Linked DNA regions of Homo sapiens: all the other regions are linked to region 1. Evidence: fine-mapped expression QTL. A gene starts in region 1. Each other region holds a variant in brackets. All regions are shown on one strand. Distances are between the middles of the regions. Region 1 holds the start of PIGC (phosphatidylinositol glycan anchor biosynthesis class C). Region 2 holds the start of C1orf105 (chromosome 1 open reading frame 105). Region 3 overlaps DNM3 (dynamin 3). Region 4 overlaps DNM3 (dynamin 3). Region 5 overlaps DNM3 (dynamin 3). Region 6 overlaps DNM3 (dynamin 3). Region 7 has its middle 29 kb from the start of PIGC.

What was found.
Region 2: its variant is fine-mapped to the expression of PIGC in whole blood (INTERVAL, PIP above 0.99).
Region 3: its variant is fine-mapped to the expression of PIGC in whole blood (TOPMed, PIP above 0.99).
Region 4: its variant is fine-mapped to the expression of PIGC in skeletal muscle (FUSION, PIP 0.95). The same link has a PIP of 0.9 or more in subcutaneous fat.
Region 5: its variant is fine-mapped to the expression of PIGC in whole blood (INTERVAL, PIP 0.99).
Region 6: its variant is fine-mapped to the expression of PIGC in whole blood (INTERVAL, PIP above 0.99).
Region 7: its variant is fine-mapped to the expression of PIGC in whole blood (TOPMed, PIP above 0.99).

What each region holds. Positions count from the first base shown.
Region 1 is chr1:172,441,693-172,445,968 of GRCh38, forward strand. PIGC (phosphatidylinositol glycan anchor biosynthesis class C) reads right to left here and starts at 2,377. Exons shown (of 2, transcript NM_153747.2): 1 at 2,296-2,377; 2 at 1-1,138. The coding sequence starts at 930. The coding sequence ends at 37. C1orf105 (chromosome 1 open reading frame 105) reads left to right here. Exons shown (of 7, transcript NM_139240.4): 2 at 3,381-3,466. RefSeq lists enhancers at 2,209-2,732, 2,456-2,765.
Region 2 is chr1:172,417,438-172,421,713 of GRCh38, forward strand. It overlaps C1orf105 (chromosome 1 open reading frame 105), which reads left to right and starts at 3,248. Exons shown (of 7, transcript NM_139240.4): 1 at 3,248-3,469. The coding sequence starts at 3,449. All of the region lies in intron 1 of LOC102724528 (a long non-coding RNA gene), which reads right to left. It also overlaps a transcript of DNM3 not described here. The variant A/G (reference allele first, on the strand shown) is at 2,621.
Region 3 is chr1:172,392,631-172,396,906 of GRCh38, forward strand. All of the region lies in intron 20 of DNM3 (dynamin 3), which reads left to right. It overlaps LOC102724528 (a long non-coding RNA gene), which reads right to left. Exons shown (of 3, transcript XR_001738294.3): 3 at 1,121-1,780. Among named protein-coding and RNA genes, the nearest start is that of C1orf105, 26 kb to the right of the region's middle. The variant A/G (reference allele first, on the strand shown) is at 1,718.
Region 4 is chr1:172,378,878-172,383,153 of GRCh38, forward strand. It overlaps DNM3 (dynamin 3), which reads left to right. Exons shown (of 21, transcript NM_015569.5): 18 at 141-305. Among named protein-coding and RNA genes, the nearest start is that of C1orf105, 40 kb to the right of the region's middle. The variant GCA/G (reference allele first, on the strand shown) is at 2,194.
Region 5 is chr1:172,373,728-172,378,003 of GRCh38, forward strand. The region is part of intron 17 of DNM3 (dynamin 3); the gene reads left to right. Among named protein-coding and RNA genes, the nearest start is that of C1orf105, 45 kb to the right of the region's middle. The variant T/TA (reference allele first, on the strand shown) is at 2,116.
Region 6 is chr1:172,397,907-172,402,182 of GRCh38, forward strand. The region is part of intron 20 of DNM3 (dynamin 3); the gene reads left to right. It overlaps LOC102724528 (a long non-coding RNA gene), which reads right to left. Exons shown (of 3, transcript XR_001738294.3): 2 at 1,913-2,010. Among named protein-coding and RNA genes, the nearest start is that of C1orf105, 21 kb to the right of the region's middle. The variant CT/C (reference allele first, on the strand shown) is at 2,000.
Region 7 is chr1:172,471,365-172,475,640 of GRCh38, forward strand. No RefSeq gene overlaps it. Among named protein-coding and RNA genes, the nearest start is that of PIGC, 29 kb to the left of the region's middle. The variant C/T (reference allele first, on the strand shown) is at 1,953.

The sequences.
Region 1 (4,276 bases):
ATCAGCTTGCTTTAATAATGTAATGGATGTCCTAATTTAACTGAGGAACCTGGACAAGTCTTCCTTGATTTCAGCTTCATCCCAAGGCCCATGAATGTTTTCTTTAAAAAGCTGCAAGCGAATGAGGTAGAATGGACACAGACATGAGATAGACATCAGCAGAAGGGCAAAGAGTACGGCTCCCACAGCACTAATGGACAGTAGGCCTCCCACGGCTGAAAATGCAAAAAGCAGTGTGACCCCCACATAGCTCCGGGGAGTACATGCCTTTAGTTTCTTCTGCAACATGGGCCACAGGGCAAAAATCTGAATGGCAAATGTCACCATGATGAAGGCATGCAGGGACCGGGGAAGACGTGATGCCAAGCATACAGAAGCAAAGATGGCCATGTTCAAGGATAGTGTGCTGGATACAATGGCAGCATTGGCACCATAGTCAAAAAAGATGAGATGGCCTAACAGCATGAAGACTGACATGGCATAGATGGTGTCAGTGCTGACAGACTCTGTAAGGGTCTTCAGCACTGGTGAAAACCCATAAGTGAAAGTAATGAAGACTAGGGCACTCTTCAGGTCAGCCCACCGGGTCTGCCCACTCTTCTTCCGCCCTTCACCTCCATCAATGAGATCAAACAAAACATACCCAATCAGTGAAGAAGCCAGACCAGTCCCTAAAAGCCAATGGGGGGCCAGAAGACCCTCATCCATATACCACCAGATAACCACAAAAACACAAACACTGCACAGCTGCTGGATCACCACACTGGACTCAAATACCACAGCCCAATATTGGTATTTCCGAGCATGGATGTTTTTCCGGAGCTCTTCCAGGAATCGCCGGTCCACATAGTTATCAGGAAAGGGCTGTCGCTCATACAAGACCTTCTGCCACTTGACCTCCTTGGTGTTAGTCACAGGTTGAGCATACATTATCCTTTCATTCAAACTCAGGCCAGTTTAATCATCGCCCTCACAGAAGTCCAGGTGGTTCTTGTTCTTTATGAAGTTTTGAAATGAGACCTCCCTGGAAATTCCATGCTGTGTTGATGTTCTACCAACCTTTCCTTGTTTTCAAAGGCAGGGGCTAGGCCTACAATAGATGAATTTGTCTCTGAGGCAGGACAACACAGCCAAGTTCCTAGAAAAAGAGAGACTGTGAACCTACGAAAGTTGTGAAAGGTCAAGAGTAGTACTGAGATAAAGTCAAATCAACTCAGTTTACTAAAAGTCTGAGAAAAATGTATGTGGTAGTCACCTTATGGGACATTAAAACTGCATTTCAGATTTGAAAATTATAATTCCTTGAATAATAATAGACATCTGTTAGCTATCGCTTATTGAGTACCTACTATGTGCTAAGTGCCTTATGTATCTTCTTTCACTTAATCCTCACCACCTTGTAAGTTAGTATTAGTCCTGCTTTGGTAAAAAAGCTGAGATTCAAGATGCTTAAGTAACTTTGCCCTAAGGTAACAGAGCAGAGCCAGGATTCAAACCAAAGTCTTATCCCAAAGCCTGTGTCTCACATTGTATCTCCCTCTAAAGCAGTTCTTAACTCAGTGGTTCACATATCCCTTAGGTATATCACATTGCATGCTTATATCTGGATTTGTGTAAATTTATAGGGATAATATCCATAGTTTTTATTGGTTCTCAAAGGCATGTTATTTGTATTTTTTAAGTTACCAATCCAAAGACAATAGTAAGCTGCACCATACAGAAAGGTATGAGCTCTATAGTTTAACCAAAATCAAAGCCTCAAAGAAACTAGACTCTTCTTCCATTAGCTGAGCTTAGCATCCTTTAAAGAGCTATCAATCTACTCAAAACAAGGAAACTCTTGAGAGGATCGAAGAAGATAATCATTCCTTTTTCACAATGAGAAAACTAAGAGTCAGAAACACCACAGCCATCCGGCAAATTTGAGAAAAAAAAAATTCATATTGCCCGACTTTATTTCTTCCATGATAGACCACAACAAATATTGCTTGGCAAGCCAGACACCGTTACCCCCTCTGCAGCAGGGATCCCAGCCCGGGAATCTTAAGGCCGCCGCCGGGGTTGGAGGGTCTGCGACGCCCAAAAGGGCAGCGCCCGCCCGCAGAGTGGGGCTGGGAGGGGACGGGGTAGGGTAGGGTGACCCCAGGGTGCGCCTTCACTCTTCTGGCACCCCATTTGGCTTTTTGGGTGGGCCTCCCACTTCCGCCGCCGCCCCTCACTCAGCCTTGGGTCTGCGGGAGGCAGCAGAGGAAAAGGAGCCCCGGAAACACTGACCGTTACACGGAACCCACCTACCCGAGAGTTCCTAGGGTTGCGCAGCTGGGGGACGGCGGCACCCAGCCTTTTTCCCGCTTCGGGGCGCCGGGGCTGCGACTGTGGCCAAGCACTTCCGGGTCCGCCGCAATCTCCTTAGCGAGGGCACCCTTCCCCGGCTGGAACCATCGCGACGTGACTGCTGCCCCCTCCTGGCTGCTCGAAGGACCTCCGGTCTCCTCTCCTGGAGACTGGCCCAAACCCGAATGCTCTGAGCCTAGGAAGGCAAATCCCCAGCAATCCCCTATTGAAAGATGGGATGTGCCATCTGAAGGACTGGGTAAGGCAAGAGAGGACAAGGAAAGAGGCTGGGCCAGTAGGTGAGAGATAATGGCCGCTTTTGTTGCGCTCCTTTATTAAGTCAGGCCCTCAGCTGGGACTTCCCGTGCATCCATGCGTTCATTCCACAGATACTGATTGAATGCCTGCATGTAACAAGCCATGCTTGGGGTGCTCATGATACAGCCGTGAATGAAACACACAAAAATTGCTGCTCTCATGAAACTCTCTTTTTTGGTGCATTGACCTTTACACTGATTATATCATCTCCCCCCTCAAAGAGGACAAATCTAAGGCTCAGATAAGTTGTATTTGTCCAAAGACAGGCACCTGGGAAGTAGATGAACAGAGATCAATATCCAGTTGTCTATAGCTTCAAAGCTTGGTTTTTTTCCTCTTTACCTCCTAAAAGAAGTGAGGACAAGATTGCTAATTAAACTGAGTTCATGGAAATATTAAAGGATATATAAACAGAAGGAAGTAATAAAGAAACAAAGGGATGTAGTAAAACACAGGATACAGTGGAAATAAAAGTCAGAAAACATGACCCATTTACTAGCTCAGTGACTCAAGGCAAATCACACTACCTGAGCTTTGATTTCTTCATCAGTAAAATGGAGATGACATTATTTGCACTTGGCTACTTTATAGGATGGTTAAAGAGTTAAATATAAAAATGGTTTGTAAAGTGTTCACTATATGGCTGCTATTAGCTGACTTTGGCCATCGTAATGATAGCAATGTTTAAGTGTGATATATTCTGTAAAATGTTCTCTATTTCCCTCTAGGCTTCTGTTCCAAAATTTGACAAGATTCCTTGGCTTAGTGAGGCCAGCCTTGTAAACAAGCCATTAGTGCTCAGCCTTCCCAGAAGGTAACCTCTCAGCCACCGAGGGCAAAAGTTTTACGAAACATCTCACAGAAGATGATTTCTTCTTAAGGGATGGGGACAATTATCAGAGGGCACATTTGATCCATTGAGAAACTCAAGTCAAGTGCTTTAAAAATAGAAATAATCCGGGTTTCTCAGAAAAAAATGATCACTGAGTATAGGCCTGGCTAGAGGAGATGAGATCTCAAAATTTTTCCCTCTCCACCACTACCACTCAACAGTATAAGATAATTTTTCCCCTAGACACTGTCTCTCAAAACACTTCCATCCTCTTTCTCACCCCACATTTTCTCCACTGCTGTAGTCTGAAATTTTCACATTTTTACCATCAAAAGTCTAGAACAGTAAGTTCCCATCTTTATAGAATAGTAACTCTGTATGTAACTTTGAGGCACCCTCCTACATTCCTGTTAGTCCTACTCCTTCCAAACAAACTACTATATGACACATAAATCTATTTTTCAAAATTGCAGGAATTACATATCTAGGGAGCATTTCAACTGTCTCTTGAAATAATTGGGTTACCGTGTCCCTTCTCCATTTTTGATGAAATGGTTCCTAAGTGTAGTGATAAACCCCACTCTGGGAAGGGGACATGGACAGAAGGGTAGGTGTGAGGTAGTGTTGGGGTGAATGAGAGAAACCAGAAAGAGGGCAGAGAGAAAGAGAAAGGGCAGGCATAGAGGCCATTCCAAAGGCACACGACAGACTAAAAAGGAATGACTCCTTGGCATTCGAAACAGCTCGTTAGAAAAGCCAGACTCCCCAAAAAGAGTTTCTCCTCCTGTTGAT
Region 2 (4,276 bases), 24 kb before region 1:
AACTTGGACCCTCATTTCATTATCCATAGGTCTGATGAAATGCAAGCCAGCCTAGGGAAATGGAGAAAGATCCAGCAGACCAGATTTCATTTACCTTGGGCCCACTTCAGAACAAATCAGAAATACAGTTATACCTAGCTCTTAGACAGAGGGAAATCCTAGAAAATCCTGGGGTTGCCATGGACCAGACCTTGCCTCCTAGTTTCCCTAGGCCTGAATCCAGGCTATTACACACCAGGACTACTCACCTGGAGCAAATTCTTATTTACAAATCCTTTTTTTCTGAGATCAACCTCTGGCATTCTCTGCATTGTGATTACATTGCTCATTTGATCTCTTGACACCTTCTAATTTACCTCACTTAAAAAAAATTTAACCTGCCATTGGCTACATCAACTCCCTCTCCCCCTATGGAGATTTCACAACATTCATTGAAATCTTTGGAAATAACTGAGTTTCACAAAATCAGGGTTGAAAATCAAATATACAAGTTATAAAGGTATTTGGCTCGGGGACTAGTCCCAGTTCTCCTGAATAAGAGTGCATGGATTTATCATTCCATGGTGCAAAATAAGAAGCTTTTTGAGTGAGCTCAAATGGCTCATACCTAGAACATTGCTAGTAGCCAGGAAAAGTCCTGGGAACTGCTAACTTAGCTATGTGATGTCCCTTCATTTCCTTTGCATGTCTGCATGTTTTTGTGTGTGATTTGAATTTGACTTTTGTGAGCTATTTTTGCATGCTATTATTTGGGTTTATTTTATAATTTAAACATTGTTTTCTTCCTCTGCATCTGTGTCTTTCTTTTTGTTATTTTGTTTTGTTTTGTTTTGTTTTTACTAGGCGACCCCCTCCTGCAGTTCCAGGACGACCATCCTAACCCCCATCATTCATCTCCTTTTGTTTCCAACAACATGTCTATCCATGGTATTTAAAAGCTTTTCATTTGCACTATATGTCGTATGTACATAAAAACTTTTATTTTTCATCCATGTGTATAATAAAAACAAAGTTTATTCTATATAAAAATGAAGTGTGTTCTGTTTCTTTTTTTAAAGAAGACCTAAATTTAAAAAAGAATTTGTTTCAACTAAAACAAGGTAAGGTGAATATATTATGTGTTCCTCTAAGAAGCTTAATTCAAAAGTTCTTAAAGCATTGTGATTTAAGACGGTCTTTGGTAGAGACTAATAATCTACCTTCAAGTGAAATTTCTGTCCAATAGAAGAATAAAAAGAAAAAGAAAATTTATGGATGTCTAGAAAAAACACAGAAGACTAAATAATTCCAATCCACCTCCAGGAATCCCATTTTTACTTATTATTGCACCAAAATATTTTTTCCTATTATTGTTTTTCTAAACACTCTTAAGGGAGATAAAATGTAAGATCATAGAAGAAACTGTAGAGCAAAAACACATAAACCTCATAAATTCTATATGGCAAATGTAAGGGCGAAAAACCACATCATTCAGAATAAAAGTACAAGGCAAGGAAATGTTGCCACCTTGAGAAGAAAGACTCTTCATGATGTCAGTAAAGCACTAGAAAAATGGAGTCCATATAAGTTTGAAGGAATAGAGAACTTTTTATTCCTCTATCCTCAAATGGTAATTCTAACACTAAAATTTTAATCTATAATTTTTTAACAAGCATCCCAAAGATGTATCCAAATAAAATGTTTATTATTTAGGTAATATAGTACATTCCACCAAATATGTGATCTGAAGCCTTCCCAAAGGTTTAAGATTTAATTCAGAATTTTATTTTTTGAAAATTTATGTGGCCTAAAATAGAACTTGAAAGTAGTCCTTCTCAAATGAGATCACTTCTGAATGTGCTCCCCTTCAGCATATTAAGATGACAGAAAACTACATGACAAGAGAGTCAAAAAAATCATTCATCAGTTCTATTTACTTCACATCTGACCTAGGCAAGCCCTGGCAAAGGAGGTATTTGGAAGATGTGGGCAGGAACCCCCAGTTGTAAAAGGGAGAGTCCTCATTAGTAATGCTGTTTCTTCGGACCACAAATTTTTTTAAGGACTGAGTTCTCCACTCAAAAATGAAAAATCAGTTTCTTGGTTTAAAATGTTCATATGGCATGTTACATTATTTTAATTGTATCCCCGGTCCAGTGACTACCATTTAAAATCAGTGATAACTAAGAAAGTTCAAAGGCTCCAAACCAAGGCATCAACTGAAGCTCATGTATAGCAGGAAGGAGGTGACTTGATGTAAAATAGCACATAGCATGCAGTCTTTTGTCCTTTCCTTCCCCTCCAGTCCAGGCATTTGATTTTTAAATCAATATTCTTAGTGGATAGCATTCTTCATCCCAATAGACAAAAATGTACCTAGATGATTTCATACCACCTCCCCAAATGAAAACCGAAGTTGTCAAAGAGAAGGTTTTCTTCAATTCATTTTTTAAAAGTGTTTGGTACTTTTCCACTTTGTCTTAAACATGGACTTATTTTTATATGCAGTGTTACACAGTTTAGATGTATAAAACTTAAATTGACCTGATGAATGATGAGAAGGAAAAACTCCAGTCATAACAGAATGAAATGACAACCTTACTCAGTTTTCCTTAACAAAGAAGTGTGTTCCCTTCCTTAC[A/G]TTCTATAGGCAAGAAAAAAGAGGGCAGGGGAAAGGGATGGGGGGCAGCCTGGAGTAAAATTAAATTATGCTAAGATTTGTTAATATGTATTTAGTAAATAGTATTTCTATGTTTCATAATATACCTTTCCCCAACTCTTCTTACCTCCACCTCCACCCTGCTATGTTTAATAGACTTGAAAAATTACTCCCTTTTTCAGAGTTGATCATAACTCAGGATAGTCAGGAAGAGCCAAACTATTATGCCTTTAGTAAACATAATATTCCTTATATATTTTCATTCCTTTATTTATGCATCAAACATTTCTTGAATTCATGATAATGTCCTGGACCCTGGGAATACCAGAGAAGTAACAGAATAAAAGTAGCTTACAAAATAGCTAAATAAGCAATTACAATGTAGTGCTACAATAAGAGAAAAGTTTGGTTGTCTTTCCAGGGAGAACTGTTCTGACTTCAGTACTGAAGCAGCTATCTGAGTTTTAGTATACTGTTATCAACTTTACCCAACACATGCTAATGTTCCAGAACATTGTGATTTTGACTTCTAACAAAGAAAGGAATACTAGAACTCATTTCAGCCAATCAGAAACTGAGCTTTTCATTCTGAATGGAATTATATGATTCAAGATGTAAATCACACAGATGTTGGTAGAGAAAAAGGCATACTGGTATTGAAACTGTAAACTGGCCTGTTTACTTCGTCTCCTAACAAAAAACACTTTGGATTCAGGTTCTCCACAGCAGTCTTCCACTGGCCACAGTGAGGGGAGCTAGGTTTCCCCAGTCTCCAGCTAGAAAAACTCAGAACATCTAAAGATCTGAAAGATGGAAAAAAGAGAACTAAAGGTAGGAAAAAAATAAATGAAACTTCCAATTCTTTCCTTATGGGGTTACCCTGGTAAATGTTTGTATGCCTTGGAGGCCACATAAACATTGAGGGGTGTTTCAACAGACATCCTAGAAGTTGAAAGCCAAAAGAAGGTAAGGAAATAACAGCTGATGTTCAGTTACAGGTGAAGATAATTTTAATGGGTTTGGGGCATGATAAATTTCAATGCTCTTTATCGTATAGTTTGGAAAAAATGTTGTACTTGCCAACATCTTTTATAACTCAGCATTTAAGTATGATTTTTTTAAATCCTCAGAAAATTGATACCAGATTCTTTAGTGCAGTTCCCTGAGATTCTGAAGTAAACCTTCTCAACTGTGAATGCACTTTAAAACAATGAATCTCAGTCACAGGAAGTTAAGATTGCTGAGAAAGAAAAAAAAACTTGTATAGACTTTTATAATTACTAGGGTCTAAATCTGAATAAATCACATTGAGCTTATGACACTGTATGTTTCCTATTTAAAGGGATATACTAGCTGTCTCTATTACCATAGTACAGGTGCTCCTTGACTTATGATAGGGTTACATCTCAATAAACCACCACAAGTTGAAAATATTGTAAGTCAAAAATGCATGCAATACCCTGATGAACCCATGATAAAGTAAAAAAATCCTAAGTTGGGGAGGACGCAGAGCAAGATGGCCAAACAGAAGCCTTCACTGATTGTTCTCCATGCACGAACATCAAATTTAACAACTATCTACACAAAAAAGCACCTTCATAAGAACCAAAAATCAGTGATCACAAAGTGATCACAGTA
Region 3 (4,276 bases), 49 kb before region 1:
TTTTCCTGGCAATAATGAACTCTGGCATTATTTCACTCATTTGTCTTCTTCCCTTTCCTTGGACTAAGCTATTTTGCAATAGTCAAAAGGGGATAAGGGTGGGAGGAAGGGTCTCCAACCAAGCAAGAAGAAACTTTTTTTTTTAACCTCATCACTCAATATTCAAGTACTTTTTTTGACCACCCTTGTTCACCAAGTATGATGGTTTCTCTTTAAAAAGACAAAACTGAATCATTCGAAAGGATTTGGGTTTTACTCCAGCTCATCAAAATGACATAAACACAATATGGAAACCAAGAAATGCTCCCTTGAAGGAGTCTCTGGTGAGCCCCTTAGTGAAGCTGATGTCCCACCCTGCAAGGGCAGTCCCAGAGTAGCATCAAGATTATTCCAGAGTGTCTCACTCATGCCCATCCCATGACTTAGGTGGCTTCCTTGACTTATGTGGCACACTTTAAGAGTTTCATTGTAATCCCACATTTTCAGTAATTTATTACAAATCGACCATGCCAAAAGATTTATTAATCCTTCTACATAGGCAATCAATGCATGCATATTCTTTTCTTTACAAAGACAAAAGCCATTTAATCCTCCTTATAATTTAGTTTAATTCTGTTTCAAATGTTTGACCTTGATGGCCTGCAGTGCTCTATCTCTTTTATGTATTTTACATATTGTTATAACTGACAATTAATATAAAGTCCCTTTCACTTAGGGATACGATCTCCTTGTTTCGGTTTTGTAGCCAGTCCCCCAAATTTTGCATGAGGACAAATTCACGATTCTTATGAGTGTGTCTTTGAATCCCTTACGTCAAGGTTTGGTGCCATGAAGGATGAAGCTGCTGAGCCCTGAAGTCGTGGGCTAAGGGTACACGGACAATTAAGCAACTTAAGTGACTAGCCTGTGTCTGATTCCCCTGCAGTCATGTACTGAAAACCTCCTGACTTACTGTCTTTTCAACAGCCCTCTAAAAGTCTGACTTCTTTTAGCAGCTGAATGTCATTTGGACAAATGAGGAACTCATCTTGTGACCTCTGATGTCAGCCAGGAGCTTTCTATTTTTCTCACCATCCTCCCCCTTTAAAAAACAAATACATAAATTTATCATTGGGCATTGTGATTTTTCATGGAACAGTTTTTATTTTTAGCAACTGGCTTTCAAAGCAAGGAAAGATGTTTTTTTAAGCATAATTACTAAGAATAGAAACAACTTTGAGGTGTTCTTTTTGATTCTTAATATTTAAGGTGTCTCATGACATTTGAAGTCTCTAAATGTCATTAATCATTTGTTGCAGGTTTAATATGAGTTGTCATGATGCTTAATATACTTTAATGAAAATAGAATTTTGGCCACATGCTGTTCATTAAAGAAAATATCCAATTTAATATAAGTCCCTCAATTAAAAATCCCATCAAAAGCCTTGTTCCAATTTCACCATGATTCTGGCTATAACACAATTATTTCATTGGAGTGAATCAATGGTTAATGTCAAAGTTTTTAATTCTTCAAGTCTTGGTTTCAATCTGGTTTAAGTGAAAGTAAAATTAGTTTGGTGGTTTCCTTCTTGAGTCTTGCAAACTTGAGTCTACCTTACACAAACATCTCCATCCTGCCACGGTTCGGATGACTGGCAGTCTGTTTAGGCGAGGCCCAGAAACAGAAAGCAAGTCTTGTGAAAGTCAGAATCTGGGAGCTTTGCAGATGCGTCAAGGT[A/G]GCCTTCAGATTGCCTCTCTGTTTTCAATGTGTCCCCTATCTCACTCTTCCAAACATCCTATGCTGTAAGAGGGTAAAAGGAAAAGGAAAATAAGAAAGGATCTACATAAGGCAAAGTACAAGTAACATAAATGCAGACAGCAGCAGTAAATATAACAATATGCTGCTGTTAGCCCAGTGGTAACTGGCATTAAGCTAACCAAACACAACTGCTTCCACATCCCATGACAAATAATAGCAAATAGCTCTGTCATTGTTCTCTTTGGGGCTCTAAATTGTTGAAGCTTCAGCCATTGCAGGGAAAGCCTTCCTGAGTTTCAGGGGACCAAGCCCTGCCCTGAGTTTCACCTGACTGATAGAGGAAAACAGCCAAGACAGGAGTCTGGCAGAGAAGCCACTGGCCAGTGAAAAATGCACAGTAGAGGATTATTATTCTTCCTGCAACCAGTCAGTAGCAAATTGTCACCAGTTGGAATCTGCTGAATATTCCTATATACAAGTTAATGTTAGCTCAAAGAAAGGGGGGTTTAAAAAAAAAAGTTTTGCCCAGTGTAAGCAGATACAGATTTGTAGATGACACACAAGCTAGTACTTCTATTTCATCACTGCACTTCGTTGTTTCCCTCACTTGTAAGAAAAGAATGATTTTTACAGGGAAACCTTCACATTCAGACAGTTCTTGTTATTTCTTGTTTTAACGACGTCAACGATTCATGGCATGACATTGCTCATAGCTCTTTCACCTCTAAATTTTATCCAAGCAACAAATTAGAAGAAAGGACTGCTGGGGAACTTCTTCCTTCTTTCTGTGAAAGATCAGAAGCAATTTTTTTTTTTTTTTTTTTGAGGCGGAGTCTCTATCACCCAGGCTGGAGTGCAGTGGCGTGGTCTCGGCTCACTGCAACCCCTGCCTCCTGGCTTCAAGCGATTCTCCTGCCTCAGCCTCCTGAGTAGCTGGGATTACAGGCGTGCACCACCACATCCAGCTAATTTTTGTATTTTGAGTAGAGATAGGGTTTCACCATGTTGCCCAGGTTGGTCTCAAACTCCTGACCTCAGGTGATCCACCCACCACAGCCTCCCAGAGTGCTGGGATTACAGCCATGAGCCACCACACCAGGCCTAGAAGCAAAATTTAAATAACGTTTACTAGAGTTGCTTTAGCCAATAAGAGCCAGGAAATTAAAAATGAAAATGTAAATGCTTCATCTTTCACTCAGAAACATGCCTTAAATGCCTACCTCCAGCAATGTAAGAAAAACATTGAGGATTTAGCTGAGAGTTTGATGGCTTTTGCTTGCCTGTCATAACTTCATTGCTGCTCAAAGGGAGAATTTTAAAACACTCGACATTGAAATCCTTTAGCTTACCATTGCCAATGTATTGTAAGTGTTGTCGGGGGGAACCCCTGAATCTAAACATATATTTACACCCTTAAGTTGCCAAATTAAATCCATCTGGCTTACCAAATGCTGTCGCCAAAAGACTGTTACACTGTTGGTGTGGCCAGTATTTTAAATGTGGGGGATGGGAGGGCAGTGTTGAAAGGCACTAGATTTGATGATAGAATTTACATGTGCATTGATGCCACATTAAGTATTTACATCAAGTTTAGATCCCATGGCAACTCTGACCAAGAAAGAATTCCTACACAAGGCAAGAAGTCTAAAGCCGCTAGGTATTTGCGCCGTCTCCTCATGGCACTTTTTGCCCTGTGACTGCTTTTCAGGCATCACAGCCACGCAATAGGCAAAACCACAAATAGCAAACACTCTAATTTCTTGAATTATTTTTTAACTATTCCCATAAGCACTAGGAAATGCCCACTCCTGTTTTCTGGTCGAAGTTATCAGCTCATGTGAATCATAGAAAGAATAAATTCTACCCAAGGACCTGAAAATATGTTAAGTCAAAATGGCAAGTAGCAAAATTCGCAGTCACTCATAATCCATAGCAAGGTAGGGTCTTCCTAACTTCAGTTGCTTAGAGACATGTAAAATTCCAAATGTTCATAAAATCAACTTTTTCTCCTATTGGGAATTAATTTAAACATTAGAAAACAGGAAAAGGTATAAGCACTCTTCTTAAATGTGCAAGTTGATATGAAATTTAGAAATAAGCCCCATTCCTTCCCTGCTTCTTTGGTAGAAGGGCTAATGGACTAACTAAGAGAGAGAATAAGCTAAAAGTCTGGATAGCCACAACTAAATACACCACCACAGGAGAATCCCTCAGCTTCTATGGTAATTTTGAAACTAAGAGAAAATAAGACAGCATGAGAAGGCATTATGCTGCTTTAAATATGACTTGGGAATGGTCTTATTTTACAATCAAATATACCACTTGCTTCCATCATGTAAATATTACCAGTATTTAGTTTCAGATTTTCATGAGGTAACATTATCTAAATTTACTGTTCGTCTGTATATTTAAATATATAACATTCATTTGCAGTATTTCATTTATCTCAAAAGATTAGTATATATCTCATCTAGAATGAGACCTCTTATGAGAATAGGAGATGAGAAAGACTTTTAAAGGCATTTCGCAGTCCAGAGA
Region 4 (4,276 bases), 63 kb before region 1:
GCATAAGATAAAAATGTTACCATCTACTGATATAAACTCCAACTATGCTAATCAGAAGTTGATAATCTGATAACGACTGACATTTTATTTTCTTCTGAGTGAATATGAGATAATCCATGGTTTGTTTTCTCTTCTTTTAGGCTGAAAATGATGAGAATGGACAAGCAGAAAACTTTTCCATGGACCCACAATTGGAGAGGCAAGTGGAGACCATTCGCAACCTCGTAGACTCCTACATGTCCATTATCAACAAATGTATCCGAGATCTAATTCCAAAAACAATAATGCACCTTATGATCAATAACGTAAGTGATTATAAACTACCTCCATTTAACTTCTAACCCATCCGAGTGTGGAAGTTGCACATATTATCTTCAGCTTCTTTGTGTATTTTCTGGATAGTTCAAATAATATTACCCAGGTTCATCATTTTCCATTAGACGTGATATGTGACTGACCAGTGAAAGAGAACTTAGGGAAGAAAACTTAAAACTTCTAGCTATAGGACTGAGGTATTCCCCATTGGCTGTCTTCTAGAAGAGTGTGAGTTTGCTCACAATAAAGCAAAACAAAAACACCATAATCCTGGGCATCATGTAAATTAATTGCAAAACCAGCAAAGAAACCAGATGCCCTGGCTCCTAGACTTTGAGACTAAAGGCAAAGGATATATTTGTTCCTATGCCCATGCGTGTGCATGCATGTGCACACACATATATAAAATATGTTAATATGATTATTTTCAGCTTCTAAAATCTATGGAATGCTATTTTAACCTGGGAAAGGGCTTCTTGCTTTATTCCCTCGGATTAAAAACTCAGTGAATTTTATTTTTCTAAGGTAAGGATGCTATAACCTCAAATCTGAAAATCCTGCTTGACTAGCCATCAATGGGTCTAAATAACCTTTTCAAGGTTATTTATAGTAGTCAGAGTATGATACTTAAATTATGTTTGATTTAGTTCTTTTGGTAGTTAACTTTTTACAGTACAAATAATACCACAAGTTATTTGAGAAATAGTCTTTTAGATAAGATAGGTTATAATGAGGTGTTTTATAGGGGGCTTTTCTGAATCTTGACAAGTGAGACACCAATAATTTTATTCCTAGTTATCTTCTAAGGACATCTTTTTATTTAATCCAATGATAAATTATGAGCATTACTTGTAAGAAATTAAAATTAGATGGCAAAGTACTAAAAAGAGCCCCAAAGTAGAATTTAGGAGAAATCTGGGTTCTAAATCTGGTTCTGCTACAGACTCTGTTGACCTAAGGTGAGTCTCTTTCATGTGTCTGTTTCCTCCATATGTAAAATACTAATTGTAGTAAGTGTATCTGACTTAGGGATTTGTTCCAGAAGATGGTACAAATGAAAGTACTGTGAAAAATATAATTGTAAGAAATTAATATGGCTGCCTATTTAAGAACTGTAAATAGCCCTTGTTCATATTTCATGGTTAATTTCAAAATTTTATTTCTAAATACGACAGTCCGTTCATTGTCCATGATCTCTGCATTCCTTGACTGTAAGCAACCCCAAGCACTCATGTGAACAATCTTATTTTTAACTAACACTATTTTCATACACGTATGTATTCAAACAAGGTTAGCTGGATGCTTTGAAGAATCAGCAACAGGTAAGCAATAAATTAGAAATGTGGGAACTATGAATTGTATTCTTTTGACCAATGGCTTTCTGTGTAACCTAAAGCAAATCATTTCGCCCCTTTGAGTTGAAGTCAGTTTCTTCTAAAACTACAGTGAGGTACCTCACAGAGCCATCAGAGATTATAATAAAAGTGGCTATAAGCCATTTAGAAAAATATAAAGTACTAAACAAATAGTCTGTGTATTTTTAAAATTACCTTCTTCATTTACTTAAATGAATTCAGGTTGTTTTGCTGTGGTATATCCAGGCACTTGCTTATTTAAACATTTTCCTGATTAAGGATCATTTATCTTTTCACTGTTTCACCGAGAGTCATTAGTGCTGCCATCAGTTCAAACGCTGCTTTGCTCTGCACTATATTAAATCATCAGCACAGGAAATAGCACTTCCTGCCTATAGCTGTGAGGAGTAGCTTGACACAAATTAGCTAAAAGGAAAAAAAAAAAAAACAAAAAACCCCTATTGCAAATCTATCCTACTTTCACCTTCTCAAGAAAAACATACACACATGCACACACATATGC[GCA/G]CACACACACACACACACACTGAAAGAAAGAAAGAAAGAAATGCAGGGGTAGTTTCCCTCACTCTTCACTGGTGTGTTTTCTTGTTTTAATGAAATGGCTAAACCTCCACCTACAGGATATTATCCTCGGAGGTAAAGTTCTGATAGTTGTCTTGAGAGAGACCTCACATAAGAGTCGTGAGAAAGGAGACTTCAATTAAGATCTGATCACCAAGGTCAAATCTTGAAGTAAAAACTAATAGGAATGTGGAGAAGGCGAAAGTATCATGTAGTGCTGAATTCTTATGAAATTGTGGCTTTGTTTGAAATTTAACTTTTTGTATCTACCAGAAGTTAGTTTTACATATCTAGAATGACTGCTTTTCTTGGGTATTATTTTATGTGCTTTTTAAACATATATAAAAAGGTATAGTTTTATATATAATACATATATTTTAAAATTATATATGTATAATTCTATATATGAAAAATATATATCTCTTTTATTAATGTAGTCATATTGTCGTGGCATCTTATTGTACAGAATGCCCAAGCCTATTTTGTTCATTCCACACGTGACCTGTTGAGTCCAAGGAAACTGAAACAGTGAACACCCAGCACTGTGCCATCTAGATGTATTGATTTTTTAACTTGATTCAAAGTGAAGAGATCTTCAAATGAAAGAACTAATAATAAAATCACAACGAGAAAACTAGTCTTTTGACTCCTAATTCTAAATTCTATTCACTTAACCCTGCTGCATCTTTAAATGAGTTTGGATCAAAAAGCTAATTGTTCCTCCAGAATCAATAAATGCCTAAAACACGGTCCTCTATTTCTTCCTGGTCTATCAAAAGCGGTGTTCTGGCCTTTCCTCTTTGAAATGGGAATGAAAAAGAATATGTTTCGGCCTTCTGAAAAAGAATATGTTTCAGCCAACATTCATAAAGTTCAGAATTTGGTGGGCAGTTTCCTTTGAAAGTTTACATTAAGTGTTCTGCCACTCAAATCTCCATATGGAATTGTTTAAGAAGTTTAAAGCCTAGCAATAAATGCCTTGCCTCAGACATACTGTAAGCCTTTGTCTATTGAAATGCAGCAGCTGTTTCATTACTTAAACATACCAGGTAACAGCAGCACAAAGAAATAGCAAGTTTATGACAGACGGTCTTTCTGGACAGGCTACAGTCAAAGCAGCAGAGTTTTGCTCAGGACTTTAAAGCTAACACACACATAACACCCCATGGTAAGCCCATTTGGATGGCCTCTTCTCTGTAGCTCACCCCACCAGAAGTTCTCCATCAAAGAATGAAGTGGATCCAGCTTTATTCTAAAAATGTGTTCGGTGTGGCAAAGTGGCACATAATTCTGTTTGAACCTGTCAGCCAACCACATGTTGGATACCCATTATTTTCCACAGCTTATAAATGAAGAAATTGAGGTTCTGAGACATTGACTTGCCCAAGATCACACAGCTGGGGGTGGCAGAGTTAAGACTGAAATCCAAGTCTTCTCACTCATAGTCTGATGTTCTCACCATTTGAACATTGGATAATGCACGTGACAGGGTTAGGAAACTCTAAGTCAGCCCTCTCCAACTAGAGGACTCCTACCCCCACAGGGTATTCATGAGTTATTTTCCCAGACAGTTAATTTTACTTGAAGATTTAATTAGGATTTGTTTGAAGGTGAGAAGCAATGTTTGAAATCTTTCTCATATTTAAGCAAACCCAGATAATACAAAAGAGAATGTAAACGTTCTTAGGAATTTTTAAAAAAACCAAATTTGAAACATAGAGCCATTTCACACTGGAGTGTGTGCTGTAGCCTGCGCCCCTGGACCCCTCTGGAGGTCCACATTTACTCTCCTTGGCCATTGGCATTTTGGTGGAAAATTAGTAACATGTGCCCTAGTTTCAAAACTTACTGTAACTTTAATGCGTATGAAGTAAAGTGTTATTTTAAATGTTCATTATTTTAGGGGAAAGTACATCTTAAATACCAGAGCTTTATCCTGGCATTTAAAGCACTGATTTGTTTCCACCAGCCAGGAATTCAGCACACTGCTCAAGAAAAAGATCACGACTAGGACTCCCTAAGTC
Region 5 (4,276 bases), 68 kb before region 1:
ACAGGCAACATACACACATTCAATTTCAGAAGAATGAGAGAGAGAAGTAACAAAAGAAAAAAAACTCCAGACCCAATGATTATTACTCCAAGAATATAGATCTTTGTCTAAGCAATCTTCTTCAGAATATTAGTAGTTATAGAACTCTCAGTATATTTTTATCATCTTCACAAAGTTATTTTTCTGTAAACTAAAGGTTTGCCTAAATTGAGATAAGCTCCTTTAAATTTTAATTTATTTTTTAGTTGGGTATGAGCATTTACAGTGACAGAAGAAGTTCTGGTTTTGGCAACTTTGGAAGTAGCTCCCCAACTTTGGGACATGTACGTGTTGTCTGTATGATGACTCAGCTGTGGTCTGGTGCTATTATCACATAATGTTCTATCTTTGAATATTGGAAACAAGAAATTTGCAACAGCTCAACCTAGCAAATTTCTTCTGATTTTGTTTTCATCTTTCCTTTCAACAAAAATTAACTTAAATTTCCTAAAACAGCCTTCAGGTCTTTTTTTAATCTTGATCATCTACTAAGGCTCTTGGGCCCTGGGAATGTCTGAGAAGGTGCACTCAGTAATTCATGTGTAGGAATAGTTGAAAAAGTTATCTTCAGGCCTTTCGGGAGTTCTGTAGTTGGATGTAGGTGACAGCTTTATCAACTACAGTATTCAGTGAACATCAGGGAAGCTTAAAACCCCTGATTATAGCTGCTTTTTTAACGGCTTCGTTTTTCTTCTGTACTCCAGAAAGAAATGATTCTACTCACAGAATTTTACAGTTGTGTGTGGTTTTTTTGGTTGCTTTAATGCTTTGTATTATTTTGTTTTTACTAAGAAGTTTTTACATGTAAAGCAAGTGTAATTGTATTTACATTGAACTTTGAAAGATTTTCTTCCTCATAATGTAAAGAAAAGGTAAATAAGATCAACTGCATACCTATGCTATTATTTTGCTATGTAGTTTATTATGACGGCCCATGCTGCTTTCATATTATTTGAATTTTATTGCCCCTGCTTTCTCTAGGACTTTATTAACTTTGATATAGTGCATCTATACTCATCCATGTAAATGATTTTGAAGAACAAAACAATTGACAGATTTTGCTTTACAATATCTGTGATTTTTGTTTCATACCTTTGTCCATCTTTCAATCTTTGTAAACAGACCTAGTTCTTTATTGCGTAGACCTTATAATCCCTTAATACCCTGATTCTAAACTGAATGAGCTTTAAAAGTGCCTGTTAAACAAATAGTATAAAGGATACAATAATTTAAAATTTCTTTACAGTTACAAGTTTTTAGGTGATGGAAGTAGAATTCCTAAAATATAGATTACTCTTGTGTCATTTTCCCCCTAATCTTTAAGTGTTATCTTCTTATAAATGAAACCACGGGGGTTTTTCTTGTGATTATAGTATTTCATTATTTGAGTATGTAAACATGATGATGATGGTGTTACAGAATTAACAGTAGCAGAGGAATCGCTCTGAGTCAAAAACAGCCTTCATCATGATCAATAGCACAATTGTTTTATGTCTGTAAGGCATTTCTCATAGGACTATATTTGGTCATCCTGGTAGCTTTTGGAAACACATGTTTTGTCTCACAGTATTTGTAGACCACTGTTGGTGGTGGGGTGAGCATCATCAACACTATCTTAACCCATACCCTTCCAGCCTCATCAAATTAGAAGTGAATGATTGGCAGTGGAGAGAGGTTTTCAGTGAAACCATTCTTGATAATGTAGGGCTGGAAAAATTCACAGGTACGTTACCATGGTAACAGTGTTTTCATCGTGATGACCTGATTTACTAAGAAAAAGTCTTCAAATAAGTCTATGACATGATTAAATAAGAGATTTAAGGAAAGGGAAAAGACAAAAACAAAACACCTGAAAGACATTCCAGTCAAGCCCAGTGCTTCTATAATAGACGCCCCAAGGTATGGTGAGAATTATTTCTGATTCAACACTTTCATTCCCTCACCTGTTAAAGTAGTAAACCTTTAAAAGAAAGCTTTTAAATTAAAATTTTCAGCTACTTGGGAGGCTGAGGCGGGACCATCGCTTAAAGCCAGGAATTTGAGATAAGCCTGGGAAACATAACAAAACCCCATCTC[T/TA]AAAAAAAAAAAAAAGGCAAAATTAGCTGGGCGTGGCATGTAGTTACAGCTATATGGGAGGATCCCTTGAGTTCAGGGGTTCGAGACTGCAGTGAGCTATGATCACGCCACTGCACTTCAGCCTGGATGACAGGGCAAGACTCTGTCTCTAAAAACAAAAATAATAATAGTAGTTATAAAAATATGTTTTAAATAACTTAAAACTTTATATAACAGCCTGTTTCTTAAATACCATGCAAATAATTTCGGAGAAAGTAAGTTATGGTAATTTTTATAAATGACTTCACATTTACAATGCTGGTGTTTTTATTGGTTAAATTAGATTTCTCAATAGCTATTTTTAAAAACTGCAATAGGAAGGACTGTCTATTGTATTTTTTAGAAACAAGCTGGTTTCTACAATATTATTCACGTTTTTTAAACAGCATCATTGAACCTGCACATAAAAGGTTAAATGTTTGCAGACCATTCTTTTTTGCCTCAAAGATCAGAGACAAATTACTATTTTTATTTTACATTTCCTTGATGAGGATAATGATAAACAGCTGTCATTTCAGTGCTTCAACTGCAAAGAACCTTATTGCAATCCTATAATTTAAACAAAGAAAAAATATAGTCATACACAATATACATACAGAAAAGAGCACAATGGAGAATTTGGTTAGAACTGGGGTTAGAGAAAAGGAAGTGTTGCTCTCTGCAATTACTCACGTAAAAGAAAAATTCCATTTATATGCATTTTTCCCGTTCATCTTAGACATTGGTAGAAGGGGCAGTTTACTGCTTCTTTTTTTCTAAAATGAGGAAATAAATCAAATTTGCATACTGAACTCTGTGACTCCCCATCATGTCCACTGTATTATCAGAATAGTTAAGATTTGCATGTCACTACATGTCTGCAAGTATTTCCAAAAGCTAAGAAGAATTTCAAATTGTTTTACTGATTATTTACTAAAGCCTCTCAATTTTTTTTAATGCTAAGAATTAAACCAGAGTTCTCTATTCACTCTGACACTTTGTTTTCTAATTGCATCTGGTTTCAAAAAGTGAAAGTCAGTGTCTTTTGCTTATTTTGATATGCAAAAAAGTGAAGCATGGTTACATGTTAAGAAAGCTGTAAAATGGGGAAATTTAGTGTTTCTATATGAAAATGTGGATGCTAATATAATTTTCCTGGTGTTTCATATTCCTCGAGGTGAATGTAACAAGTTATTTATTCTGCTTTTCTCCTTTAGCTCAATTATTTATTTTTTATAACTATCAGTACTTTAAGGAATTTTTCTAGAAACTCTCTTTATGTTCTGGTTTCTTAATACCTAAGGAAAAAATTGACTTAAAATAATATTTATCTAACATTTATTGAACAAATTTCAGTTCTCAGAGCTTGAATATATTCTTATATGGGTTGACAATTACGATGATACCCCTGTCCTAAGGTTGTGCTACAGATCTATATAAAGTACATAGCACAGTACCTGGAATACAATATTTGCTCAATAAATGTTCCTGGGAAGTGGTAGTAGGTTTATGCTGAAATGCCATTACCTGGTACTGCTAAACACAACGGCAAAATCTAAAATCCAAGAATGTTTTAGATCAGAGAGACAAATGGAATTGTGTTGTATTCCTAATGGAGGCTTATATTTCTTTATATAGAAGATGTTTTCTTCAGAAAGCTGTAGGTCATCATCTGCTCTCATTGATATATATCATATATATATATATATATATATATATATTTCATAATCACTTTATCATCCTCATTATCATCAAGTTGTAGTAGCTCCTAACTCCTCAACTTGGAATTTCTCTGGTCTGTGCTTTCTCTTACAAGTAGGCTTTCCTGGAGGCCCTAAATGCACTGGAGCCTCAGAAATGTCCTCATACTGTAGTCCCAAATCATGAGGTCATGCTCTCAGGACTGGGAAATGAGTTGAGCATGCATTATTTTAATGTGTTTTTTAGAACAATAGACATTTCTGAGTGACAGAAGCCTATATAAATGATTAGAACCAATTCTATCAATATTGTTGATTTTGTGGCCCATCAATATGCTTTTCACACAAGCATATTGATTCAAAGGAAAGGCTTATCATTTAATATCCAGTAAAGCTATTTAGCACAGTGCTATGCCTAGAACTGATTGGATGATTGAAAATCA
Region 6 (4,276 bases), 44 kb before region 1:
CTCCCTTCCTGCAGAAAAATAAGTTTCAGTAAAATATTCTAGAGGATTACAAGTTATCTTTGCAGTTCATAAATACTTTCATAGGCTCCATTGATATTCACAGTTTTCAGTTAGAATGTTATTTTTATTGCAAAGTTTGCATTTATATTTCTTTTCTGTGGATTGCTTACCACTTATTAAAATTAAAATGCATTTTAAGGTGAAACATTATGTACCTAGAATACTGAAGGTAGCACTGACCATTGTCTTTAGCTCAGAAAGCAATGTTGAATTGGAAAAGCAAGATTTGAGAATATTCCTCTTTACTGCATTGTCATTGCACTCTAGTCCTTCTGATTTCCCTTGTTTCTCAGATGATCCCTACGCCCAATTATACAGAACAGTCTTCCTCTAGTTACTTATATCAAACACTTGCCTGCTAGCTGTGTTTGGCAGGCCAGCAGGATGAGGTAATAATCAGAAGAAAATGTTCTGGTTTATTGGCCTCATCCACGTACAACATTATTCAAAATAGTTCTCTGTGGGTGAGAACAGAGTTGCTTTGAGATCCCCTGGTCTAATGTTCTGTAGTAGTGAGGAGGAACAAAACTGTAAACTTTTTTGATCTCTTCTAGAATAATGGTAAGGTAAATGATATCTGCTTGGCCCATCCTTTCAGTAATGTTTACAGGCAGTTAGATGTATGTGAAAATGAGAGCCTTTCATTTATAAACATTTTGGCTTTACTCTTTCCAAGTCCAGCCATCTTCTTACGTACAGCCTCCATGGTCAGTACAGCAGTGTTTTCCTAAAAGCATATTTTGTGAACAATTTCTCCAGGATGATGGTAGTTTTTGTAAGACAGATGCCTAAAAGACATATGGTTTTCATAGATTTTCCGTCTAGACTAGCTTTATTTAGTGACTTTTGGTCTGAATTGGTCTAGTTAAAGTTTCTGTAGGAGCTTGTATAAAAATTTAAAATGTGGGTGTACCATTAAGGTGTAAAACAAAAGTTTGACTTCTTGTTGGCAAGAGATTAAAACGGATTGGTTGAAAATTTCCTTCATGTTAAGTAATTCTGATCATCTTATATGCCTACTCATCCATTCCACCCCTACAACACTGTCCAAAATGGAAAGGCTTACCCTAAAAATCCCATAACTGTTAAATTCATATACTCCTCACTGTTCCTGAGTAAATTCTTTGTGTTCCAGTTTATGTGTGTATGTTAGAAAGCCCTAATTCTTTCTGCAGACTCTTTACATGGCCCAGGGGACATATTATTCTTTACCCTTTTAGCACCAATTTTTACAAACACAGCATTTCTCTCATTTAAAAAAAGCGTCTGACAAGCCGCTGAGTAGAAGCGACTGAACCTTTAGGAGTTTCATAGTGCCTTCAACCAACAATGAAAATTCTGTTTTTCAAGGCGTTTCAAATTCTTGAGCCAGTGTCAAAGACTCATTTAGAAACAATATGACATGTTCAGAGGAAAAGAATTACATCTAGTCTTGCCCAGAAATCATCCTTTTGCTCCCTCTTTTGTAAGAGCTAATACTGCAGACCAGTCCCATCTTAACTGCATCAGAAAGAGGAGGCTCGTGGAAGGGAGGAAATGTGGGCCGTTCTGTCTCCACGAGTGTCATTGCTTGGCTTCCTTGGCTTCTCACGAAGCATTTAATTGGACTTAGTCACATATTTGTTCACTGACATGGCAGCCTGCAAAGCACAATGCCTCTCTGTTTTTCTCTGTTTGCTTTAAAAAATTTTGTTTTTAAAATTTGAGCTCTAAAGCATGTTAGAGCTCCTCCTGCTGGATTTAAAAAAAAATAACTGGGACGATTAATAAATGGTAATTCTTTTTCTTCATATTTACCACCTGGGCTAATAGAAGTGACAGAAGCCTATCATGTGGTGCACTTAAAACTGACCTTTTAATTCATCAGGTATGAAGGTCAGGCAGAAAGAAAATGTTGGTGCTACACAACTCATCTCTCAGTCTTCAAATTCCTCATGCT[CT/C]TTTTTTTTGCTGTTGTTAAAAAAAAAAAAAGGAAAAGGAAAGGTTATTTTTCTGTGAGTATTTCTAGTTACATAGTTACCCCAAGTCACATCCCCATGCTTGAAAGGTTCTTGCTCCCTCTCAGAAAGGGACAAAAAGTCTTTTCTATCTTCCCAAAGCAGAAATGAATTGTGCAGTCATACAGAGATTCGAAGTGTTGCCTTTTTCCTCCCTATCCTTTCTTCTTTTTCCTTCTTCCTCCTGATTTCCTCCTCCTTCTCAGAAGCGGACACTTGCCTCGCCCAGTAGCTAGTTCTCAGCACCTCCTTTCTGCCTCCTCCTTCCCCTAAATGGTGGCAGTTGGCCTCTCCCTCTCCTGGTGCCTGAAGTGGGAGTGACGAGAAGGGTCAGAAAAAGGTTTACCCCATTCACCATCAGTGGGAGTAGGTTTCTACAGCACATAAGTTTCTGGAGGTCTCTTTAGGAATAAGAGAGAAAGGAGGGGGGATAGAAGGGAGATAGGAAGAAAGGAGGGAAGGAGGGAAGGGGCAGGAAAGGAGGGAAGGAGGGAAGGGGCAGGACAGGAGAAAAGGAGGAAAGGAAGGAGCAAAGGAAAAAAAATCACTTGTAAATCTCTGTAAAACCACTTCCTTTCTCTGCATGCTTTCTCACACTGTATCCCTCTTGCCTTCTGCTTCTCTGCGTTTCTTTTAGCTCTTTCCTCCCCCAAGTTTATAATCTCAATGATATAGTACAAAGGCCAAAATACTTAAAAGTTAATCTCGGAAAGTAATGCTTTTTAGAAATCATATTTTAATACAACTAAAAATCCTTCATGTTACCTGTTTCATGACTTTATTAGGACTTGGGACAAAACAAGTCATTTGGTATTTGTGATAAAGAATAAGACAACCCTTGATTTCTCAAACTTCAGTACTTTCTGGCTTTCTTTCCTTTGCACATACCTTTCCTATTCCTGGAATGCTAGTCCCCTTAACTTTCCGTACTTTCTGGAAGTCCTTCCAACCTCCTAGCCTCCTTCCAACTCTAAGCTAGGACTCCAGATGTTTCTGAAACTCCTGAAGCAAAAATTTTAGCATAATCCTACTGTGGTCATAGTTAACTTGTCTCTCTCCATCTCAACAAGAAACTTCTTCAGGGCAGTGACTCTTTATTTCTGTATCTCTACCTCTTAACACAGTACCTAGTACATAAGTAGGGCTTACTGAGGGGATGAAGGAATATAAAATGAATTGACTTGCAAGCCTCAATCAAAATTTATTTTGAAACTAGCCCGATACTTATTTTAAAAACCAACTTAAACACACTTTCTTGTTCTATTCTATTGAAAAGCTTGCCTGAGTGAATGTTGTAAAATTCTTTTTACAGATCATAAACTGAGGAGAGTTAATGTGGGTAAATCATCCTTTAAGCTGCTTTTTTGCCACAACCACAGAAGTGGGTATATTAGGCACCATGCCTATGGGTGAAATCCAAGTCAGATATGTAGGACAATGTAAAGAAAGTGTGACAAAGCAGATTATATTACCATTTATGTCACAGGCTAATTTATACAGGATATTACCTGTTTGTATCATCAAAAAATTGTGAACTATTTTTCTCCCTATGTTCTGATTTCAAATTCCATGAATTGATTCATATTTTCCCAATGACATACATTATAAAATCATGGGTTCATTTTCACAGGGGAAAGAAATGCTGGCTCTAATACACTGCAAGAATCATATTAGAGAATTCCTTAAATCCTTTAAGTGGGCTCCAAGTTCTGTGTTCTTTCCAGCATCTACTGTAAACTATTCTTGGATAGTATTGGCTCATTCTGTTGCTACAGCCAAAAATTCCAAAAATATGCTGAATAGCACCCTATAGTATTTCTTACAGTAAATTATAAAATATTATCTTCCATGTGGACAAAATCATGACTGTTATAGCATTTTTCTGACTTTAAATAAATGCCCAAAATAAGAAGTAGAGTGCAAATACATCGCTGAAATTTAAAATACAGTGTCCCAAAATTTGTTCTCTTAGAGCAGACATTCACAAGAAGAAGTAGGGGTCCTGCATCACAGCTGCCTTCCATTTTACCTAGAAGTGTGCTCCAACCCGATTTATCTTTGGGCCCATTCACACTCATTGATCTACCGCTTGGGACACTGCCCTCAGCAGGTGCTGTGGAAAGCTGCAAGAGGCGTAGGAGTAATCTTGGTTCATAGAAGGTTTTGAATGTTGTTCAGATGATAAGATATGCATGCACGCCTCAAACTTCAAAAAAAAT
Region 7 (4,276 bases), 30 kb after region 1:
CCAGATTATGTGAATTTCCAGTCTACATGATGTATCCTTGTGTCTCTAGCCTTCTAGGGAAAGGGATGTCAGGACGTTTTTACTCACTAATCTGGTTAATCTAGTCACTCGACAGAGATATCAGAGAAAAGTCAACAGCAGGTTTTCAAAGTCTGATGATACTTTTTAGCATCATTTACCTCCCTTTGCTCAGATTGTCTACTTAAAAACTTTATAAACTTCATTTGGTTTCTCAAATATAGTGGGTTGACCAGTTAGCACAAGAAGTCTAGTTCCCTTTGAAATCTCATTTCTCTATATGAATGATTGTTAATTTGCTTGGGCTAGTGTGAACTCATTTTCCAGAATCTGAGGTCTAAACCTGGACCCAGTGTGGCCTCAGCACACTAGAAATACTCCATCTGCAGCTTCATTGAATAGTTAGCCAGCTGGTGAACTTCCTTTTCAGTTTACTCCTACAACAAAATCCTGAGAGTAATGGGACTGAGGGAAGAATTTCCTAAATTGGGAAGTCCAACTCTGACATACCCCTCCACAGGACTAACCCAATGCTATCATTTCAATTTAAACTTGCAAAGAGATTTGCATATATGCTGCGTGATTTTTCTCTGCAAGTAGTATTATTTAAAATAAATCTTCTTACTCACACCAACTTTGCTTCTATTTTTCCTGTGGTAGTCAAAGTTTTGACTCTGCCATCCCTCTTAGCCCAACCTTTCCTGCACTGAGTTGGATCGTTAGAGGTTATAACTTGAGCTTGTCAGTTATTTTACCTGCTGCATGTTTTTAAGCGTCATCCAAAAGATCTCTCATAAATGGGCCATGGTAATTTCTTCACTATGAAAATCTACTGGTAATGTTATTCCTAGTTCAAAGTAATATACATTTCAGATTAATTTTGCAAAATGGATAATCTTGGGTAGATTTTTGTCGTTGTTTTAAGGTAAAGCCTGCTTTTGCTGTTTTTTTTTTAAACAATGACTCTTATTATAATAAAAGTCCACTGACATGAGTCAGATATACTCTTTCATCTTTCCTCACCCTAACAGGGAATTTTAAAAAACCAATCAATCTACAAAATTCTTTTATTGCCAGGAATGGAGAGAAATGCTGTATTTAGGAAAAGCCGTGCTGTAGCTTTTAAAAACAAATATTTAACTCGTTGTCACATCTAGTTCCCAGTTTAACCTTGGGAAATCCTACAGGCCTCTACTGCCATGTGCTGTGTTCAGGATCACTTGTATTTTCCCTTCCCCAAACTGTCAAAGCTCAGGGGAGACCTGTCAGGAGCCATCACCTCCCAGGCCTTGTGGTAGAACACATTGGAGCTGCCCATTGTTCTGAACATGTCTAAGAATACATAACTTCAAGTAGCCTAAGTGTAACAAGTTTAATAACTGCCTTGTGTCCTCCTAAGGAAAGCCCTATTTAGAATGTCCCATTTGGGTGTAGTTACTCAGGCTGAGGGAGGTCTTAGGGATGAGAAAGGCATTACTGAACAGAGTATGAAAGAGTTTCAAGAAGAAGAGGAAGCGTGGGTCTTGTTTCTATAAATAAACCTATAAATTCTGAAGAGTCAAGGTGAAATTAGAAAATTTAGAAATGGATAAAATTTAACTAACCCTTAGAGAAAACAGGGATGATCAATTCTGTTTCAACCATCTCCCTCTCAAAAACATCTTAATTTAGCACTTTATTAAATATTATACCTGTTTAATACATGTAATTCTTGTCTCTCTAGAAAAATGTATAACTTAATGAGGACAAGAACAATATCTCATGCTGACACCATATCCCTGCAGGAGCTACCCAGAACACACTTGAGAGATATTTCAAATGAAAAAAAAAATATCTATTCCTAAGCTTACCAAGCAATATGGAAAAAAAAATGAAGTAAAATCCCTGAATTTGGGACAGCAAGGCTATAAAGTATTTAGGTATTAGGATCCTGC[C/T]TTTGAGGAGCTAATAGTTTCAATTGTAGAATAAGATATACACACAAACATGCACACAAATGAACACATGTGCAGGTCAGTATGAAATTAGGCATGAGTTATAAACAGAAACACTCAGTGATTGCAGCAAAAAGTTCTCCATATCACCAACCGTCCAGCTCTCTAGACAGGAACAAAGAGGCAGTTGTGTCAACATCTCAAGAAAGTGGTCAGAAGGGGGAAATAGCCATATTCACCCACATGGGAAGTTATCGCTTGTTCTTTGCAAAGTCTTTGGCAAGACATTTAACTGTCTGGCCAGTGAAATGCAGAATAGTGGAATCAGGTACCGGCAGATGTCTGCTGTTTCAAGGAAAACTTGTTCTTAAACCTCTTGGGATTGTCCTCCACTCAGTCTGTGTAGTGGGGATCATCCTGTAGGGATGTCACATAGCCAGAGTCAGGAAGCCCTTTCTTCCTGGATTCTCACATTGAGAAAGATGCATGAAGAGTAAGATATGCATAAAAACAACAAGAAAGACATTTGGTAACATTAATTGGCTCCAAGGCATGGAACTGTGTGGCTGGAGGACAAAAATTGGCCAAGAAAGAGGATTTTTCAGAGTACACCCATATTTGCTCTTTTAATTTTGAACCATGTGAATGTTTCACTGACTCAAAAATAGAACAAGCTGAAACAAACAAAAAAATCTTTTTAAAATTGCCAGAGGGATAATCTAGGTGATAAGCTATTAACATAACTGTTTGTCTTCCTGATACTCAAACAACATAGTCCTTGAATACTTACAAGGTTTGGACAAGTTTCCAGTTTAAAGAATAAACTTTGTCTCTGGCCCTTGGAAGTTTTGCCACTGAGAGGCTTCTACTGGCAAATAGTAACATTTATGTAGCATTTTAAACTTTTCAAAGCACTTTCACTTGTTTTTCCTTTCTGTTTGCATTAAATTTACCATTGTTCTCCCCGTTTAAAAAAAGCAACAATGTTTCATACAGTTCTATCTATTTAGCAAATGCAATTCTTTCCTGGGGCACTTTTACCAAAAAACAAAAACAAACAAACAAAAAAAAAACAAAAAAAATCTTTTTTTTTTCTTCTTAAGATCCCAGGTTATTTGGGCAGTATGACATGGACCCAGTCATTCTCTCTGGATCCACCCCAGTGCCACTCAAATTACAGCACCTAGAGAGTAGAATCTAAAATTCTACTAATGCCCTGGCCAAATGTGGCTATGAGAATCTTAACCTCTCTTGTTCTGGATTTCCTACTGCCTGAAAAACAGACTATTATGGCTTTAGTCTTCCTAGCAGCTAAGTCACATTCATTCTTTCACATTGACTTGCTACCAACTAAAGACTTTTTGTCCTTCTAGTGAGAATTACTGTTCTGACAGCTTTCTTCAGGCTGCTAAATTTTTTTACACCTATATGCATGCCCCTATATTATTTCTTATTAGGGTTTATTCCTGCTAGCTTCCAGCCAGTTACCATCTTTCTGAATCTAGATTCCATCATTGACTAGTCCTCCCAGATTTGACAATCTCGTCTTCTTCTTCTAGGTATTTGACACAAGTGTTGAAAGGAACAGAGCCAGGAACCAGACCCCATAGAATAAATTTAGAACTGTCTCTTTAGATCAAGGATTCCCAGGGGGCTCTTCTTTATATTTTATCGTAAAAACATTCAAATATACACAGAAGTAGAAATAACAGCACAAAAACACCTATATCTCCTCCCTCTGGAGTCCACAATTGTCAATATTTTTGCCACATTTCCTTCACCTATATATTGTTTTGCCAAACCATTTTAAAATAGATATCATGACATTATACCACTATATAGTTCAACTTGCAGTCCTTCAACGCATAACATCATTATCTCACCTAACAAAATATGAATAATTCCTCATTGTTATATTCACTTAGTCTATATTCAAATTCCCCATTTGTCCTCAACATGACAATTACGGCAGGTTTGTTCAAAGCCAAGTTACATCAAGGGTGACATATTGCATTTTTCCTCCTTTCATCTAGAACTCCACCTCAACTTCCTTTTTCATTACATTGATCTGTTGATCTATTGAAGAGACAAAGATAATTGTTTTGTAGAAGCCAAAGACCTCTTTAAATAATATGGCTCTTCATGTTGTTCATTACAAATGCTGCTATCAAATAAAGGTCATTTATTAAATAATGTTAATTTTCCTTTTTAATAACAAATTTGTATGTAACTACCAATTAGAGATCCTAGTAAACATGAAATAGCACTCTTATCACTTTGGGTTGACATGATCACAAGGATAAACTCAGAATTATGATCCTTTATAA